Linked DNA regions of Homo sapiens: region 2 is linked to region 1. The links come from fine-mapping of genetic effects on gene expression. A gene starts in region 1. The other region holds a variant in brackets. All regions are shown on one strand. Distances are from middle to middle. Region 1 holds the start of STBD1 (starch binding domain 1). Region 2 overlaps CCDC158 (coiled-coil domain containing 158).

Region 1 (9,525 bases):
TAGACAAAATCCACTAGCAAATTTAAACAATTCAGATGGCTGAATTTGGAGTCACACTGCCTTTATTTTATTCAGTGTGTTCCACAACCTCAGCCTCTTCCACATTGTTCTACAGCTTCTCCATTACTTTGCAAACTGAATCAGTGAATCCCCCACCATGCGTGAACCACTTTATCCTCATGGCCAGTTTCTAGGAATCTATTGCTGCATTCTTCCCAGCGGGTAACTCCCCCATTCTCTACCAACACAAACTTCCACTCCACCACTGTATCTGCAGGCAGGAAAATGGAATGAGACCAGAACCCATCCTTGTTATAGTGGAGTGGGATGTAAGTGTTCCATCTCCCAAGACACTCATGGTCTCCAGTTACTGCAATGAATTGCACATCAGTGCTTGTGACATAATGGACCTGGAACCTGACACTAACTTGCTGAGACCCTGCAGGCATCACTGCTACCCTTTCCATTTTCCCATGCACTTGCTGACCTCTTGCTTCCACCAAAGTGCTTCTTCCATTGTCCATTCCCTGGTTTAGGTTTAACACTGGAGCCTTAAGACTGCCACCCACACCAACATCCCCCCAAGATGAGTGCCTAGGCACCATTTCCCACTCCTCGTGGTCAACCCGGTCCTGACTGTTCAAATCAGAGAGGCTCATTTCTTCTTTAGCTCTGTTCTTGAGCAGGTTGCTAGAAGGCAACTTCTCTGCAAAACATGTAGCTGCTTTAGCAGATATCTCTTGTCCTTTTTGGAATCCCCATTCTCCCATAGGAGATTCAAGGCTTTCATTTCTTGAAACTTCAGAGTAACTCCTAGAGTTACTGGTCTCAGAGGTAGCTGGAGCTTCTGTGTCTGGAAACTGTCCAGAAGGAACATGTTCTCTTGAATTGTCACAGACTTCCCTGGAAGGATTCTGCAATCTCCATGATGCTGCTTGCAGTTTACCAAGGTCTTTGGTCTTAGAAATCAAATGTCCATTGCTTTCTTGAAGATGCTCTAAGAAATCAAAGGAAAAATGTAATAGAGTCAGGTAGTTCATTTAAGAAAAAAGTCAGGCTGAGAAAATAGATTTAGTTACTGAAAGCTTTACTACTAATCAATCTGCAATTCACAAAGTCCCCCTCTATTAAAATCAAGTACTACTTAATTAACCAGTATGCTCCCAACACTGTGCTCTAAGAATACACATGTATATCTGACAACAAAAGGGACATCCAGGAGTATCAGTGTGCCAGCACAAGTGTAAATGAAGTGGTAAGCTGTAGAGGCAGACGTGTAACCCCCCCATGGTCCCCAGTCTCCACAGTCCAGGCCATACTGGCATGCAGCCAAGTTAAGTTGCTTGGCTCCTATCATCAAAGAATGTTGTCCAGGCTGTGGGGCAAAGGGCTGCGTGGCTACGTTACAAACCAGAAGAGTACACTTGTTCTCCCAGGGGAGGCATGCAGGGCAGGGATTGGCTCTCGCAGACCTGCGGGCAGATCAGCAGGAGCTGTCACCTTGGGGAGATACGGAGAACAGTAGTGCTTCCCTGGGCAGGAGTGGAGGGAGAACTGGGGGAAGGGGCTGGTTTCTCCTTGCCAATCCCATATGCGTTAGGAACCTCCCCAACAAAACGGTGTTTTGTATCCCCTTCCATTGTAAGCATTTTTTAAAAAACGTTCTTAAAAATACAAAATCCAAGTCCTCTAAAAATGCAGTTTCCTTCTTGGCCATGCCATTGGTAGTCCAAATAGCTCCCTACAAGATTGAAATCTCCAAATCATACATACAATCAGCACAGCTGTGGTTTTATGTGGTGTGGGGGTGGTGGTGGTATGGGGACAACAGTCTTGTTTCATTTTATCCCTTTTTTTTTTTTTTTTTTGAGATGGAGTCTCGCTCTGTCACCCAGGCTGGAGTGAGTGCAGTGGTACGATTTCGGTTCACTGCAACCTCTGTCTCCCGGGTTCAAGCGATTCTCCTGCTTTAGCCTCCCAAGTAGCTGGGACTACCGGCGCCTACTACCACGCCCAGCTAATTTTTGTACTTTTAGTAGAGACAGGGTTTCACCATATTGGCCAGGCTGGTCTCGAACTCCTGACCTTGTGATTTGCCCGCCTCGGTGATGGTGGGAGTTGGAAGTGAGAATGAACAAATATTATTCTGGATTCCCAACTTTTCAACCTAAAGCATGAGATTGGTCTTCAGAAAAAAGATAAGTGAACTGTCTAGGCATCCCAGACCAATCACAGTAAAGGCACACGGGCAGATTTTCATATGGCTGCACATGAACACCACTGGGCTAAAAATAAAGTTCACAGATGTCATTTTCACCATTAGGCTTCTGTCCAGGCATGGGCAGCTTGCCAAGGGAGGGCACTGGACGGTAAGCTTTTCTGCCAGTGTTCGCTCTCTGCTTAGCAAACGGTCCCTAAAATACAGAAATTTAAACCCAGATGTCAATTCTACTCATCAGGGTTGGGTCCCCTATTTAAGTAGTCCCTTCCTAGGGATGACTATCCGGCCCTATTCTGGGGCAGCGTGGAGGGGACTGCCGACAGTGCTGAAAGGGGTGACCAAGGCACATCCCCAGGGCCTCAGCCACAGCCTTCATGGCCAGAGTCCAACCTGAACTTTGCCTTCCTAAAGAAGCATCCAGATAGCAGGAGGCGCCCGCAGTTCGGGTGTTCCCAAACCCAGCTCTTCATGGGCTGTGCGATGGGAGGATGTCAGACTACCCGGATTGGGACTTAGAAAATGTCCCTGCTTGGGCAGAGATCGAAGAGGCTTGTAGGATCCCCTAAACCTAAGCCCCCCTTTCCAAAGGCCGGGAAGGGGCGCCGCCACTGCAGCCGCCCGCACTGCACCAAGCGCCGCCAAGTGGAGGAGCTCATCCCCGCCGGAGGGGCAGGACCAAGTCCTCAGGCGCGGGCGCTGAGGGACTCGGCAAGGGCGCGGCCCTTGGAGGACCAGACAAGAAACCTGCCTGCGCGTACCAACCAGCCTGGGAAACCGAGGGGCGTGGGGATGGCCCAGTCCCCTTAGGAGAGCCCGTCCGCAGGAATGGGCCCCTAGGAAAGCTCCAGGTGGGTTTGTCTCTTTGCTCCCTTCCTCGATGAACCTCAAAGCTCTGGCAGATGTGCCCTGGAGTCACGGGGGGAAGAATACCTGGTTTGGTGACCAGCTCCTGCCCGGAAGGTCCAGGGCTCAGTCCGCTGCTGCCACTCTGATGGCCTCCCGGAATCGCAGCTCCCCCAAGAGGGGCGTCTTTCTCCTGCTCCGCATCCCCGTCCTTCCCGGTGTCGCCAGGGCCGCCCCGCAGCAGCCAAACGAAAAGTGCTCCGGCCAGACCCCCTCCAACCAGCAGGGCGGACCAGACGGCGCCCATGGCTGAGAGGCCGCGGCCGCAGGAGACTACAGGGACTGGGACCGGGGCTCAGGTCACGCACACAGAGCCACACCTACCCCGCCCGCTCCAGCCTTTTACGGTTTCTGCGCCGGGCACTCCGGCGGAGCCCGGCCCTGAGCGACCAGTACTCAACTTTCCCAGCCCCGCCCCGCTCCCCGCCCCTGGGCTGCAGCCCCGGGCTCCCTCCCGGGGAAGACTCCAGCGCTCTTCTGTCCCTACACTTTCTGTTCCCGGCCTTGCCAGTTGCCAGCGGCCAGGGGCGCAGGGGTCGGCGTTCCACGTGTGTCCCGCGTGAAGAACCCAAGTGCGCACAACTGCCCCGCGCAGCCGGGACCTGCCCCACCGCCCTTCCTTCTTCCGCCTGCTGCCCGCGAGGCCCAGCCCTGCCTCGGCCCGCACCGGGCACCTCGGCGCCTTCTCCCCAGGGAAGCTCAGCAGCAACGCGGTCAGCTAGAGGCCGAGAGCTTCCTGGAACTTAGAGGTGGGAGAGGCCGCGGGCGTCGGTGACGCGCGGGCTGGAGCGCGGGCTAGAGCGGTGGCGCGTTCGGGTGGGATGGGTGGCCCGGAGGACGGCGGGCGCGGTGCGGGGAAACTGGGAGCCCTAGTGGAAGCTCCGCTCCGCCGCCAGCTCAGCGCGCTTAGCCTCCCCAAGCTTCCGCCTCCTCGCCTGTAAAATGGAAGGACTGGACTGAGGACCATCCATCTAAAGATGCCAGTCAGCTCAATCACATCCAGTCTCGTCCTCTTTGGGCGTGTATGGCTGCTGCGAAATGCGCACGCATCTGTATGAACTGGATGTTGTCCATGGACGAGCTCCTACAGATAAGTTTGTTAATAAAAACAGCAGCTCTTTATTAAGCACTGTCTGTATTCCGGATGTTTTAAGTGTGTATTTAATTTAATCCTCACAAGACAACAACCCTGTGCGGTGTTATATATATTTCTTTGTAAATCCTTTCCTCTGCTGATCTGATGACTTTGCACAACAGCTTCAAGCTGATGATCCCCACGTCTATGTCTGCAGCTCACACCTTTCCCTTGGACTCCGACATTCAACTGCTAAAGGCCACAGATACCAAACACCTGCCTTGGAGTAATTGCTATAATTGCTCTCTCTGGTAGGGCAAATTATCTAATGTGCCCCTTGCTCCGAATGGACAGTAGCCCTTAACGGGGTGCAAGGTTCTGCCAGTGGGGTTACTGGAAGGCTGATGCACGCCTTGATGCAGGCCACAACTTCTGTAATCATAAGAGAGGAGGTAGAGGAGAGGTGAGGGCGAAGACTGCCTACTGGGCATCTCCTCGTGGATGTCTAATAGACATCTCAAACCCAACTCATCCAGACCTGAACTCCCCACCTAACTCCCCAAACCTACTACTCTCCCCACCTTCCCCATCTCAGGAAGTGGCAACCACATCCTTCCCATTGCTGCAAAACAAAACACAGCAAGCTCCCACAGGCCACTTTCAAACCACCAGTCAGCGTGATCCTGTTAAAACACCCCAGTTCTCTGCTCAAGACCCTCCAGTTGCTCCAGATCACACGGAAGAACCTTTAAGACCCTACAGGATCTGTTCCCCATGACCACTGTGCACTCATCTCCATCTTGCCACCTTCAACCACACTGGCTTCCTTGCCTAGAGTCATCCTTCCTGCAGACATCCTCTCTCTCTCATCCCCTTTAGGTCTTGGCACAAGTGTCATCTGCATCCCCACTACCCCCTCCCCTGCCCAGCCCTTCCTTGACAATCCCAGTTTTAATTACAATCCTACTCCCTATATCCTTCCCCTGCTCCATTGTTCTCATTAGCACTTAGGGCGTCATTTCTAATACACTCTATAATCTGTGTGTCTGTGGTTTAATTTCTCTTTCCTCCCTTCAGAGTGTAAATGACAGCGGGGATGGTTGTCCTTTGTTCTCTGCTGAATTCTTAGCACCTGTAACCTCTCCGGAGTGAGCGCTTAGAAGTACAGGTTGAATGAATGAATTAAAAGCCCCAGGTAATTTCACCCTAGAGCATTATTGGCATTTTTCTTACGTAGATTCCATATGCATTTTTAGCCCATGTGGATATTACCGTTCCTTGAAATTCATTTTATGTATAATAAAAAGTAACCGTAAAGCTATATTTTTAAGAGAATGAATGTCACTGTATAAAATAAGATTCTTTCAGCCTGGGCAGCATAGCAAAACCCTGTCTCTATGGAAAAATACAAAAATGAGCTGGGCAAGGCAGTGGCGCCTATAGTCCCAGCTACTCAGGAGGCTGAGGATCACTTAAGCCTGGGAGGTGAAGGCTGCAGTGAGCCATGATCATGCCACTGCACTCCAGCCTGGGTGACAGAGGGAGACTGTCTCAAAAAATCTGATAAAAATATAAGATCCCTTGCATGTGCGGTTCACATAGGGTTTGTGCTCCTATGAGAGTCTAATGCCGCTACTGATCTGATAGGAGGTGCAGCTCAGGCTGTAATGTTCACTTGCCAACCACTCACCTCCTTACTGTGCAGCCTGCTTCCTAACAGGCCTCAGACCAAGGTCTGGGGACTCCTGTCTAAGGGATAAAAATCCCAGAGAATCTGTAAAATCCTTCAGATGTAAGCCCCACTATTCACTTATAATACCTAAAAGGCTCTTAATATTTATTGCTGTCATAAATGTCCATTCATTTATTTAAAATAATACCAAAAATTATTTTCTCAACCCATCAGAATTATTTTTACATTGTATCATATTGATCATGCAACATTTTTTTTAATTTACTTTTTTCTTTGGGAATCCCAAGAAGCTAATGCAACATTTTTAAAGAACATTATTTGGCCTTCCTTTTGGCTTTTCCAAACTTAAGTGCTGGCTCATTAATTTCTGTGTTGCTGCTCTTTTAAAAAATGCTCCAATCATAGTCATATGTTTATATTAAAGGTTCATAGCCACATATCCTAAAAACATTCTTGCCGCACTGATGATACCCATGCTTATCGCTATACACTTGCAAAACAATCATGTTTGCCTCCATATAGAAAACTGTGAGTGCCTAGGAAGATAGTGTTGTCAGGGAGCAAAAAAGGCAAGAACGGTTGTGCGGACAAAGGAGGAAGATGATGAGTTCTGCTGGGACGTGTTAAATTGGAGGCACGAGCAGGAAGTTGGAACTCGGTTTCTTTAGTTTAAGAGGATCAAGGCTGGAGATGTTGGAAATTCTGCATAGAGATGTGGTAATTAAATCCATAGTAAAGATTAATGTTATAAAGAGAAATGAAGGATGGATGAGCCCTTGACACAATTGCAAGAAGAAAGATTGGGAAGTTGCCTCCATGTTGCTATTTATATTGCAATTCTGTCTTGAGATTATATTTTATGGGCCATAATGTAGAACCCGTTTTCTAATTGATATTATTCTATTTAATAAAGTATGAATAGATATAGATGGATATTTTAAAGTTTATTTTATTATATATTTTTTCCTTTAAACTTATGCAAGAAAAGATTGCTCAATCCTGGCTTAGAGGGATGAGGACAGAACAATGAAAAGCAACTCTGTTTGCAAAGTCAGAGAGACTAAAGACTGTGGGAAGGAAGAGCCAGAGAAGAAGGAGAACCAAAATCAGATAAGAAAAGCAGTTCAAGAAGGTGGCCAGGAGAGGGAATGGAGGCATTGCTTTGCAGAACTGAAGTTGATAGAGAACTGAAGGGAAAATGGTTGCAATTGGCACATAAGAGGCCATCAGTAGCTCTGGAGTGTTTGTGGGGGTGGAAGTTGGATTTCAGAATGCTAAGATATAAATGTTGTGAAAGGATAAGAAGTCCAGCATTGAGTTATCTCTCTCTTGAGAAACGTGGAGGCAATAGGTTGGAGAGAAATTGAAGGGTTGCTTAAGAATAGAACAGGATACCCAGCACTTTGGGAGGCCGAGGTGGGAGGATCTCTTGAGGACAGGAGTTCGAGACCAACCTGGGCAACACAGGGAGACCCCCCCCCCCCACCTTCCACCAACCCCCCCCCCCCAAAAAGAAAAAGAAAAGAAATAGACCAGGACTCAGGGCAGTTCCTATAAACCAAGAGAGATTTAAGCACGATTGGGAGCAGGAAAGAGCCAGTGGAGACTGAGCTTGAAGACATGAGAAGCAGAGGAAATATTTTTTCATTGGACTTTCATAAGGCACAAGAGGGAGATGGGTCAGGAATGCCAGTGGAAGAATTGGCCTTCAATGAAGGAAAGAGATTAGAAGGGCATGAAAAAAAGAAAAGAATGAAAATAAGAGACATTTTGTGCCACAAAGGAAGTAGTCAATGAGGTTATCAGCTGAGTGGGAGAAAGAAAATCTGGCTGGAGTTTTAAGAAAAGCAGAGAAAGTAGATAATGACCACTGGGAGAAGACATGGCCAGTAGAAGAGGTGTCTCTGCATAGTCCTGTTGCCTCTCCACAGTGGGGTATAATAAGAAAGAGATTTGGTCTTGTCCTTTTGTTGCTGGCACAGAGAGCGTAGAACCCTTGGGATTTGTTATTCCTAATGGGATCCTTTCGATCACACCAGGTTTTCTCTTATGGTATCAGTATCTTTGAGGTTTGTCTCATCCCTAGTTTAGATCATAAATCCCTTGCTGGTCACAGCTTGGACATCTTTCTATTCCCTGGAATGTCAAGGCTATCATCTAATAGGCCTTCTTTTTATTGTTTTTGTTTATTGAATAACTAAAATATGCAGGCACCAGGCTAAGTGCTTTATAAAGATTATCTCATCCTTATAAATGGAATGCTTGGAGGGAAGTAATCTGGTCAAGGTCATACAGTTAATGAGTGACTGAGCTAGGATTTGAACCCGGTGTTCTGATCCCCAGGACCTGCTCTGAAACCCTAGCTACACTGAAGTCTGATGATTCTTAAACTATGTTCAAATTTCAAAGCATAGATTTTAGAAGTGAGTGTGCAAATTTGGATGTGTTATACTAGAGAACCCTTATGGTTGTGTTTCAGTGTTTGTGGTGACTCTCAGACTTGTTCTTGATCTGTAATAACTCTGCAACCCCTCTCTCCATTAGGGGAATGCACTTATCACCCTCAGCACCTGTCCATTGCTGTCAGACCTCTGGCTCCTGGGGAGCCACATAACATTAACCACAAGTACAACCTCTCTGCAAAGCAGTCACATTGGAGCTGCCCAGTTTCAGGTTTCACAGAGACATTTTCTAACTGAAACTGTTTGCAAACCTCTGACTCATCTTAGTTCCAGAATAGACTCAAGGCTGACATCAGTCATGCTAAGTCATTAAAACTTTAGAAAAGGGAGATCTGTGTTAGACAACTAGCTCACTATCTACAGAAAAATAAAGCTGGATTACTACTTTGTACCACATAAATGCTGAACTCCAGATGAAATAAAGTCCTAAATGTAAATGGTAAAACTATGAATAGAACAAAATCCAGGAAACTGGCAATGTGACATTGCCTAACATAGGAGGCCAAAAACATTTTGACTTCATTAAAATGATGCTATCTGGTCAATGAAGGGTGCCATAAACAGTTACCAGATAGAGCCAAACTGGGGGAAGATATTTGTGTTGTCTAAAACTGATAAGAGATTAATACCTAGCTCTACAATGAACTCGTACAAATTGGCAAGAAAAAGACGCAAGATCCAATATAAAAATGGACGAGGGACGCTCTTTCCTCAGTGCCCAGAACAATGACTGGAACATAATAGGCACAATAATTTTTGGCTGAATAAAATTAGACACAAAAAATGCTTAAACTCATTGATAGTCAGAAAAATGCAAATTAAAACAATGATATGCCATTTTACATCCATCAGAGAGACAAATATTAGAAAGAAGTTGTGTGGTGCTGCTGTTGGGAGAGCCAACAGGTACAAACACTCTGGAAGAGTGTTGTGAAGCTAAGTATGCACATAGCCAATGGCTGTGCAATCCCACTCCTCAACATGTAGGCCCAGGGAAAAATGTGCACAAGACTATAAGGGACATACAGTGTTACTTGGGCCAACGGCAAGTTCAAAGCCCCTGGCTGTTCATCATAGGGTAATAACTAAATAAAATGCGATAGATGCCTATGAAATACTATGCGGTAGTTAGAACAATGAACAAGATCTAGACATAATGTAATTAAATCTT
Region 2 (9,525 bases), 100 kb before region 1:
CTGGGACTACAGGCAAGTACCACCATGCCCGGCTAATTTTTTCATTTTTTGTAAAGACAGAGTCTCACTCTGTTGACCAGGCTGGTCTCTAAATCCTGGGCTCAAGTGATCCGCCCACCTTTGCTTCCCAAAGTGTTGAGATTACAGGCGTGAGCCACTGTGCCCTGCCAGATAGTATTGTTATTCATGTTATTGCTGTCCAATTATCTGGTACCTTGTATGTGTTGAGGCAGTTACTATGTAGGAAGGCCGCAGTTACTATGTAGGAAGGCCTGCACGTGAGTTATCTCAGTTAACTCTTATTCTTTTGAGGTATACACTCTTTTACCTTTTAAGCTGTATACTTTTTATCTCCCTCGTATAGTCATAGAGAGGTTAAATATTGTTCTCAAGGTGGCACAGCTAGTAGATCACAGAGCTAGGATTACAACATCCAGAGACTTGAAAGAGTGTGATTGAGAAAACAGACACTGAGAGCATGTGAAGTTAATAAGCAGCTAACAGCAATTCAGGTAGTACAATACTGTTCAACATGAATGGTTCTCCTTATTGTGTTTCTGAGATTGTACCAGCCCAGTATGTTTCTTTGAATCAGTCCCGAGGTACCTCAGAATTTCCCAAGGAAAACATACCTGCAGACTGGTTCTAGAAGAATGTAGATCAGTTCTGTAAGATCCCCAGTCTCAGGTTTCTGTGGAAGGTAGGGTGGTTCATCAACCTAGGAGCTTGAGTCAGTTGAAGAATCCAGGAATCTAAATAGAACATACATCATAAGTCATCTGTACGCAATCAAAATAGAACTTGGGCCAGGCCTGGTGGTTCACGCCTGTAATCCCAGCACTTTGGGAGGCTGAGGTGGGTGGATCACTTGAGGCCAGGAGTTCAAGACCAGCCTGGCCAACATGGTGAAACCCCATCTCTACTAAAAATACAAAAATTAGTTGGGCAAGGTGCCACATGCCTGTAATCCCAGCTACTCAGGAGGCTGAGGTGGGAGGATTGCTTGAACATGGGAGGTGGAGGTTGCAGTGAGCCAAGATTGTGCCACTGCACTCCAGCCTGGACGACAGAGCAAGACTCTGTCTCAAAACAAAAAAAAGGGATTCTAAATCAGTTATTCATTCTATGATAGTCACAGGAGAGGTCCACCTTAAGTAGTAGCCATACAAAAAGAAATCAAGGTGAGGATTATTCATACTAGGAAAAGTATAAGTGCACATCCACCAGGGCCTTTCGACTCCAAGGAGCAGGAGTCAGAACCCAGGAGGTACTTTTAAACGCTTTATCTCAGCTATATAACAAAGCCTAAGGCTTTAGGGAATTTTCCTCCAAAAGTTCCCTCTTTGTGGTCTGTGGTTTCTTAGACCTTTTTTTTTTTGGCAACATTCCAATCAAATAACTAGAGTAGAATAGATACACAGATATTACTTTTTATTTTTATTTTTATTTATTTATTTTTTGAGACAGTCTCGCTCTGTCACCCAGGCTGGAGTGCAGTGGCGTGATCTCCGCTCACTGCAAGCTCCACCTCCCGGGTTCACGCCATTCTCCTGCCTCAGCCTCCCGAATAGCTGGGAATACAGGCGCCCGCCACCACACCTGGCTAATTTTTTGTATTTTTAGTAGAGACGAGGTTTCACCATGTTAGCCAGGATGGTCTCTATCTCCTGACCGCATGATCCGCCTGCCTCAGCCTCCCACAGTGCTGGGATTACAGGTGTAAGCCACTGCTCCCGGCCTAGATACTACTTTTTAAAAATGTAAGGCTCCTTTTAATGTGAACCTGTTCATAATTTTAAATCAGGCAGAACTGTTCATAATAGACCTTCGGCATGTCAGAAGAGGCCAAGATCTCACCTCTGTATTTTACTCAGAGATTTAAAATAAACACATGTAAGTTCATGTTATGATCCCCAATTCAACCAAGTGCAGAGTTTTTTTTTTAACAATTTTATGATTTATTGAAGCAAAAAACCTTGCTTTTTCTAGAAATCTTTAATCATTTCATAAGCTTTATGCCTGAAAATAGGAAAAATATTTCAATTCCTATAGTGTCACAAAAGTAGAGAAACACTGATGACTTGACCAAATTCAGGATATATGGTCAGTCTAAAATAGTGAAAATGAATTACAAATATTATTTAAATGCAGATTTTCATTACTCTAAAATACACACACAAAATAACTACCAGCATTGGCAACAGAGATACTAAGCATCCTCTTTACAAATAAACAGTTGTTTTAAAATTCTTGTTGAAACCCCATCAAAAAGTGGGCAAAGGATATGAACAGACACTTCTCAAAAGAAGACATTTATGCAGCCAAAAGACACGTGAAAAAATGCTCATCATCACTGGCCGTCAGAAATGCAAATCAAAACCACAATGAGATACCATCTCACACCAGTTAGAATGGCGATCATTAAAAAGTCAGGAAACAACAGGTGCTGGAGAGGATGTGGAGAAATAGGAACACTTTTACACTGTTGGTGGGACTGTAAACTAGTTCAGCCATTGTGGAAGACAATGTGGCAATTCCTCAGAGATCTAGATCTAGAAATACCATTTGACCCAGCCATCCCATTACTGGGTATATATGCAAAGGATTATAAATCATGCGGCTATAAAGACACATGAACACGTGTTTTTATTGCGGCACTATTCACAATAGCAAAGACTTGGAACCAACCCAAATGTCCAACAATGATAGACTGGATTAAGAAAATGTGGCACATATACGCCATGGAATACTGTGCAGCCATAAAAAATGATGAGTTCATGCCCTTTGTAGGGACGTGGATGAAGCTGGAAACCATCATTCTCAGCAAACTATCACAAGGACAAAAAACCAAACACCGCATGTTCTCACTCATAGGTGGGAATTGAACAATGAGAACACATGAACACAGGAAGGGGAACATCACACACCAGGGCCTGTTGTGGGGTGGGGGGAGCGGGGAGGGATAGCATTAGGAGATATACCTAATGTAAATGACAAGTTAATGGGTGCAGCTCACCAACATAGCACATGTGTACATATGTAACAAACCTGCACGTTGTGCACATGTACCCTAGAACTTAAAGTATAATAAAAAAATATATATATATATACATATATGTATATAAAGAAGTGAAACTCCTGACTACTCTGGGCACACTGCTTATGGGGTAGCCCTGCTGCACAAGGAGCAGTAAAAAATAATAATAATAAAATTTTTTAATTAAAAATTTAAAAAAACAACTCTTGTTTAAGTGAATAAACCTATGCTGTCTTCTGTAAACTACTAATTTTCTAAGAAAAAAATTCCCCTTTGAAGGACTGCTGCTTTCCAACAGCCTGTTATGAATAACACAAGCATTCATAGTGAGTTATGATGAATAACGCAAGCATTCATCATCTTACGTCGAAGTAGACAAGTGTGGTTTCCACATCAGAATATTCTAAAGCCAAACCTTCCTCTTTCTTCTTTTCTCTACTCTCTAACTCCTATTTTCAATTCTGCTTACCTTGATCTTAGATTCTGTTTCCTGCTTAATACTAAAGTCTTTGATAGTGAATTACTATATGATTTGCCAGTATTTGGTTGTGGTTCTATATCTGTCCTACTCATTCCTTTATGCTTCTGATTGATCTCTAATTCATGATAACATTACTCAGCAATTTGAACTTTCTTAGTGTCATTCATTATCCTGAAGAATCCCAAAATGTATCATGTTAGTGTATCAGTAAAGTTATACAACAAACATTCACAATGAAACTCGTTTAAATGAGAAGGCATCCTTCTTGTACACAGCATAGAGTCGTTTTTTATAAGCCAATTTGAAAATCCTTTTCTTTCAATAGGCAAGGTTTTTTTTTCCTCAAGTAGCAGTCTCTTCTATTTAGAACATTTAAATTGCCTAGCAATCTTGACTAACATTCTATTTGTTATAATTCTTTATGGAATATCTCCCTACCTACTACTTACTTCCTAAAAAACGATAGCACGAAGCATATTAAGGTAGATATGTTCTATCGTTAATTGTAGTTTTGACAGGTGGCATCTCAGTAATCAAAAGGAAGAAAATGTGAGTGAAATAAAAATGAATTCCGTTTAATAAAAACTGTTAAGCTCAGGGTTTTTTTAAATTTTTAGAGACTTTATGCTTACAATCATGAATTAATGTAAAAATGATAAGCAGCGTGTTACATGATCTTCCTCTTCCCATCACTTTAGTGGTCCTCACCCACATCTATTTTGTTTTGTTTTTTAGAGAATGAAGATTTTGATTCATGAATTTGACTCATTGTTTTTCTTTTTTCTATCTTAATTTCTGCTTTTGCATTTATTATTTCCTACTTGTGCTTTCTTTTAGTTCACCCATTTTTCTATGTTTTTGTGTTAGACACTTAATGAATTTACTTTTATTATTTCATTTTTATTGATGTAGGTGTCCAGGGCTGGGAATTTTCATCTTTTTACTATTTTAATGTATGTCACAGATTGATATGTACTATTTTCATTATTATTTTTCAGAAATTATTTAATTTCAGCTTGTGTTTCCCTTATCACACAAGAGTTGTTTAATAGAAGGCCTTTTAATTTCCAGGTAGAAAGACCTTTTTAATTTGGAGATTTTGATTTTAATTTTTAGCTTTATTATACTGTGACCAGAAGGTGTTGTTTGTAACATTTCTACTTTATGGAAACCTACTTTATGGAACCTACTGATTTGTGCCCTAGAATATGACT[GA/A]TTTTTGTGAATGTTTCATGTGCCCTTGGAGAGGAAAGTATATTGTCTGTTATCAAAGTATAGTGTTTAATATATAGCCAAAAGGTCTACCTTAGTGATTAGTTCTTCTAAATCTTTTATATCTCTACTTATTTTTTGTCCACTTGGCCTGTCTCATACTAATTGTCCGTTAAAGCCTCCCATTATTACTGCGTTTGCAGTTCTTACCGTATCTTCTGTGGATTTATGCTTTATCCAAGTGATTGCTGTGTTATATGGTACATATCTTTATTGTGCAATGTGGCTTTTAACTTCAAGTGCACTGCAATTTGTTTTAGTTAATGCTCTCTGGCTTGAAGACAACTTAGTCTGGTATTAGGATTTTAACCCGTGCTTTCTTGTTGTTTTCATTTGCCTGGCAATTTTTGTTCATCCTTTTATTTTTAGTCTTTTTGAATCTCTGCGTGTGTTTTTAGGCATACTTTTTTGTACATAGCAGGGTTGTTTTTTTTAAAGTCAATTTGAAAATCCTTTTCTTCCAATAGGCAAGTTAAGTCCTCTTACATTAATCAACATGACTGTTTGGTCTAAATTCTGTGGTATTTTTTTCACATCATTCTATTATCTTGTGGGTGTAATTACTGAATGTGTTATATTTGCTAGAGTTTCTTTATTTGGTGTTTCTTCTTTATGTTTCCATTTAAAATTCTTTGTCATTTAAGAAGGTTTGTATTTTTACTCTAGTGGTTACTTTTGTACTTATGCTTTTTATAGTGCACTTTTAAACCTGCTTTTTCTTACTTGACCTTTTACTTTTTCTCAGTTTTAAGTGGTGTCCTTTGACTGCTGTCTATTCCATTTTAAGTCAATGGTCTTTTACTTTCCACTTTTCTCCCTCTTCCTTCCGTTTTTAGTTACATTTATTCTCCTTTGTCATGCACATAATATTTATATCGCTATTCAGTGCCATTACCTCACCTTTGTTTTTCTCAACTCTATAATTGAGTATTTAAATATTCACCATCAGTCCCCTTGCAGTTTTCCCGGTCTTGTTTTTTAAATGTTTGTCTTTATCCTTTTTTTCCAAATTTACTTTTAAAAATTTAGAACCTACACAAAACCTTGAAGATCTTCACCAGTTGTAGACACTGCCACATTTTACAGTGGTCTTCTGGGTGAATGAGGCTCATCTTCTCTAGTAGAATCCTCAGCAGAGGCACACGGCACAGTGTCCCGGTACAGTCAAAACTGCTTTTTTGTGGCTTCAAACCTTTTGAGGGACATCTTGGCTGGCTGTAATATCCTTGGTTTGTCCTTTCTTTCCCTTCTTGAAAGTACTACTACACTCTTGCCTTACTGTGTGTATTGTTTTTTAATAACCTGGTGCCAGTCTAATCTTCTTGCCTTTGTAAATTATTTCATCTTTTTTGCCTGGACACACTGAGGATTTTTTCATTATCTTTAAAGTCTTAATATTGTATTACTAGTGTATGTCTCAGAGTTTATCATTCTTGATCACTTTTCCCTGATATGGAAAATGTGTAGATTCGGGTCTTTATTTCTAGAAAATTTTCTTGGATTATAGTTTTAAATAGTAGTTCTGTTTCATGTTTTTCCTTTAGGAAACCCAGTTGTATTATATTCAACCTCATTTACCTGTCTTCAATTTCAGTCCTCTCTCACTCCTTTTTTTTGTCTTCTTTTCTTCCTTTTTGTGGAGAATGGGGTCTTGCCCTGTTGCCCAGGCAGTTCTTGAACTCCGGGGTTCAAGCTATCCTCCTGCTTCTGCATCTCTAAGTGCTGGGATTACAGGCATGAGCCACCACACCCAGCTCTCACCCTTTTTACTTCTTTATTTTATTTTTTATTCTCATGGTGGCTTTCCTGATTTTCTTCAGTGCCTTTATTAAATTTTTATTACAACCTGTCATCGCTTGTGTACTTTGTGATTCAGTCTTTATTTCTGATATAGTTTTGTTTTTTATTTCTCTGTCTTTCCTAACTTTAATCAACTCTCATTTCATCTCTTCCTGTTTGTTTGTTTGTTTGCTTGTTTTGTTTCTTGTCCATTTTTATTCTTTGGCTTTACATTTCTAATTCAGGGGTGATTTTTCATACCCTAAATTCTTGTTTGAGCCTACTGGGTTCAGTTTGGAGTATTATGTTTCAGTTTTCTTTGGCTTCATGTTTGTTGTTTGTGGGAGAGACTTTTCATCAGCAGAAAAGATTGTATTCATGTTTTCTGACATTTTGCAGTAGATATAGTCTGCTTTTATCTATTCCTATTCATTTTGTGGACAAGGGTCCTACTTTGAGACTGCCTTCTGCCATGCACTTTCTTTATGGGTAGTGGTGTTGGGTGGGAAGGATGGAAGAAGGGTGGTATATCTAGCTTGTGTTTTGCTTCTGCTGGTTCCTTGGTGTTCCTCTCTCATTTCCTTCTTTCCCTTGACTGCCATGTCCCTAGGGGAGACCATTTTTTCTCTCTGTATCTCATTCACCCCAAGAAACCCTGCTTCTCTGAGGCCGCTACTTCTTCAAACCCTTACCCCATTGTCAGGGCTATGGACTATCAAGTTCCAACCTGTGCTTAATATTTTGGCCTTTACTTTTTCACCTCTGGGGATGAATTTATCTGTACTTTTTCTGTCTTCTGCTTACCTCTTCCCTCCCATTTTCTGTACCCCTAGGCTTGTAGTGTTGGTAGGTGGGCTGCGGGAATTGTTTTGGAAAAAGATTTCCCTGTACTTGCAGATTATTTGAAGGTTGTGGTACTCTCTGTCTTCCAGTGATGCTAGGGGTGTGGAGTGCCTGGTTGATTTTATGGTTATTTGGGAAGATGTGAGGAAGATTTGAAATCAGACCACCACCATTGTTCTCCACATTTAGAATTCTCCTCTTAGCTTAAATGAAAATTGTGAGCACTATTTGACATCAGAGAAGTTCTTCAACTTTTATTAGTGACTTCCATTTTGATGATTTGTGGTTTTTGCTAAGGAGATATTTTCTTCCATTATTTGATGGTGTAACCTTATGAGAAACCTCTACAATAATTAGTTTCTTATTTTCAGGTTGTCTTTAATAATGTACTTGGCTATTAAAATCAATAATTTTCACCATAAGATTGTATTCACTTATTAATTTTATGTAATATAATGTATTTCTGTATAAATAATTATTTTTCTGGAGAAGAAATTATTACTAAATTTCAATGTTAAAAAGTCAGTTCCTGTTCTTCTATGAACTTTTTTCACATAGTACCTTGTTAATAAAGATTGAATCTCTGTCTTTCATAGACAGGAACCAAAAGAACCAAAGAGGGAACCATTCATACTTCAAGATCTCTAATAAGAAGTAGCAATATTTAATATGGAATCAAAAGCTTGGGAATCAAATAATGAAGATCTTTTATCAAGTAGTGGTGTCACATCTAATGGAGGTATGTGCTGTTTATAAAACAAAATGGGGAAAAAATAGAATTAACCATGATATTCATTCAAGCTGCTGTTTCTAGTATGTTTTATTTTTAACCATGTGGGTTACAGACCATGATCATGAATGTCTACCATATTGTTTATAATTCTACTTTTTGAAGAAGAGATTCCTTTGTCTTTTAAGGAATTTTTTGTTTTAAAAATGTTTCTACATTGAAGTACTTCAGCCTCAACATGCCCCATGCCTCCCTAATGCCTTCTCTTCCTCCTGTGTCTTCCTAGCCTGCCTTCCTTGGTCTGCCCTAAGTCAGAATTTTGTATCATTTCATTCTTTTTCCTCACCTGCTGCTACATCCAGTCAGGTACTGAGGCCCTGCTGATTTTACCTTTGAAATGTCTCTTGAATCCATTTTTTCCCTCTCCATTTCCATTACTGGTGTTCTGGTTCAGGCCCCCATCACCTCTGATCCAAATTATTTCAATCAAAGGTGATTCCTATGTCAGGAAAACAGACACAGATGGAATAAATAGTTGGAATTTAATACAAGGAATGGTTACATAGGTGTTGAAAGAGCTGCAAAGCCTAAAGGGATGAAACAACACAGAAATTACCAACTGCAAGAAGCTGCTACCAACCATGCCTTTGGCTAGAAGGACAATGAGAAAAGCAGCTGTTGCAAGGGCATGGAAGCTAGAGGTAGAACCACGGAGAGGGCTGCCTGGAAGGAGCTGAAGCCACCACCAACTACCAGATCCTCATCTGAGACAGTGAGAGGACCATGACCTTGGCTTCCCCTCTTCTGCTGCCTCCAGCTCTTCTGCGAGCTCTTCCCATTGCAAACCTATGTGGAAGAGAACTAGAAAGGGAACCTACAACACTCAACAGAGAAGGGGAAGGACAGAGAATGCATTCAAGGGCAATCAGGCAAATGACCTGCACTTTCCCTTCCTTGCCCCTCTCTCCTCATTCTTTTTTTCTTTTCAATTTAATGGTCTATCTCAGAAGCCAGATTCATATAAGTTTTTTCTAGTAGAAATTCAGGTTCAGAATAGGATAATCACAGATGTAACTCATTCTTTTAGTGCATGCAGAGGTTATTCTCAGTTACTGATCTGTTGTTTTACTGGTCTGCTTAAAAACGTTTCTTTCAGCACCATTATTGTATAAACATTTCTGCTTCTCACTATGCTCATATATCCTAAAATGCCATTGTCATCTCCACCTTACCACACCCATCTCCCCTGCCCACCTCCACTTGCTCACTTCCTACATAGCCACATCCTCATACTCATTATTGGCACTGGCACTTAGATCACGGGTTGTCCCTCCCTGCTTAGGTGCATCGTCATCCTGTAATACTGTCCTCATAGGTGACCCA

Evidence for each region. PIP is the estimated chance that this variant, and not a neighbour inherited with it, causes the effect.
Region 2: its variant is the best candidate, but not a certain one, in a credible set for the expression of STBD1 in whole blood (TOPMed, PIP 0.85).

What each region holds. Positions count from the first base shown.
Region 1 is chr4:76,300,616-76,310,140 of GRCh38, reverse strand. STBD1 (starch binding domain 1) reads right to left here and starts at 3,408. Exons shown (of 2, transcript NM_003943.5): 1 at 3,152-3,408; 2 at 1-997. The coding sequence starts at 3,371. The coding sequence ends at 141. FAM47E-STBD1 (FAM47E-STBD1 readthrough) reads right to left here. Exons shown (of 7, transcript NM_001242939.2): 7 at 1-997. The coding sequence ends at 968. RefSeq lists a cis regulatory region at 8,654-8,664 and an enhancer at 8,587-8,731.
Region 2 is chr4:76,401,764-76,411,288 of GRCh38, reverse strand. CCDC158 (coiled-coil domain containing 158) reads left to right here. Exons shown (of 25, transcript NM_001394954.1): 3 at 8,009-8,151. The coding sequence starts at 8,082. LOC124900891 (small nucleolar RNA SNORD50) reads right to left here and starts at 9,213; the gene lies at 9,143-9,213. The variant GA/A (reference allele first, on the strand shown) is at 4,733.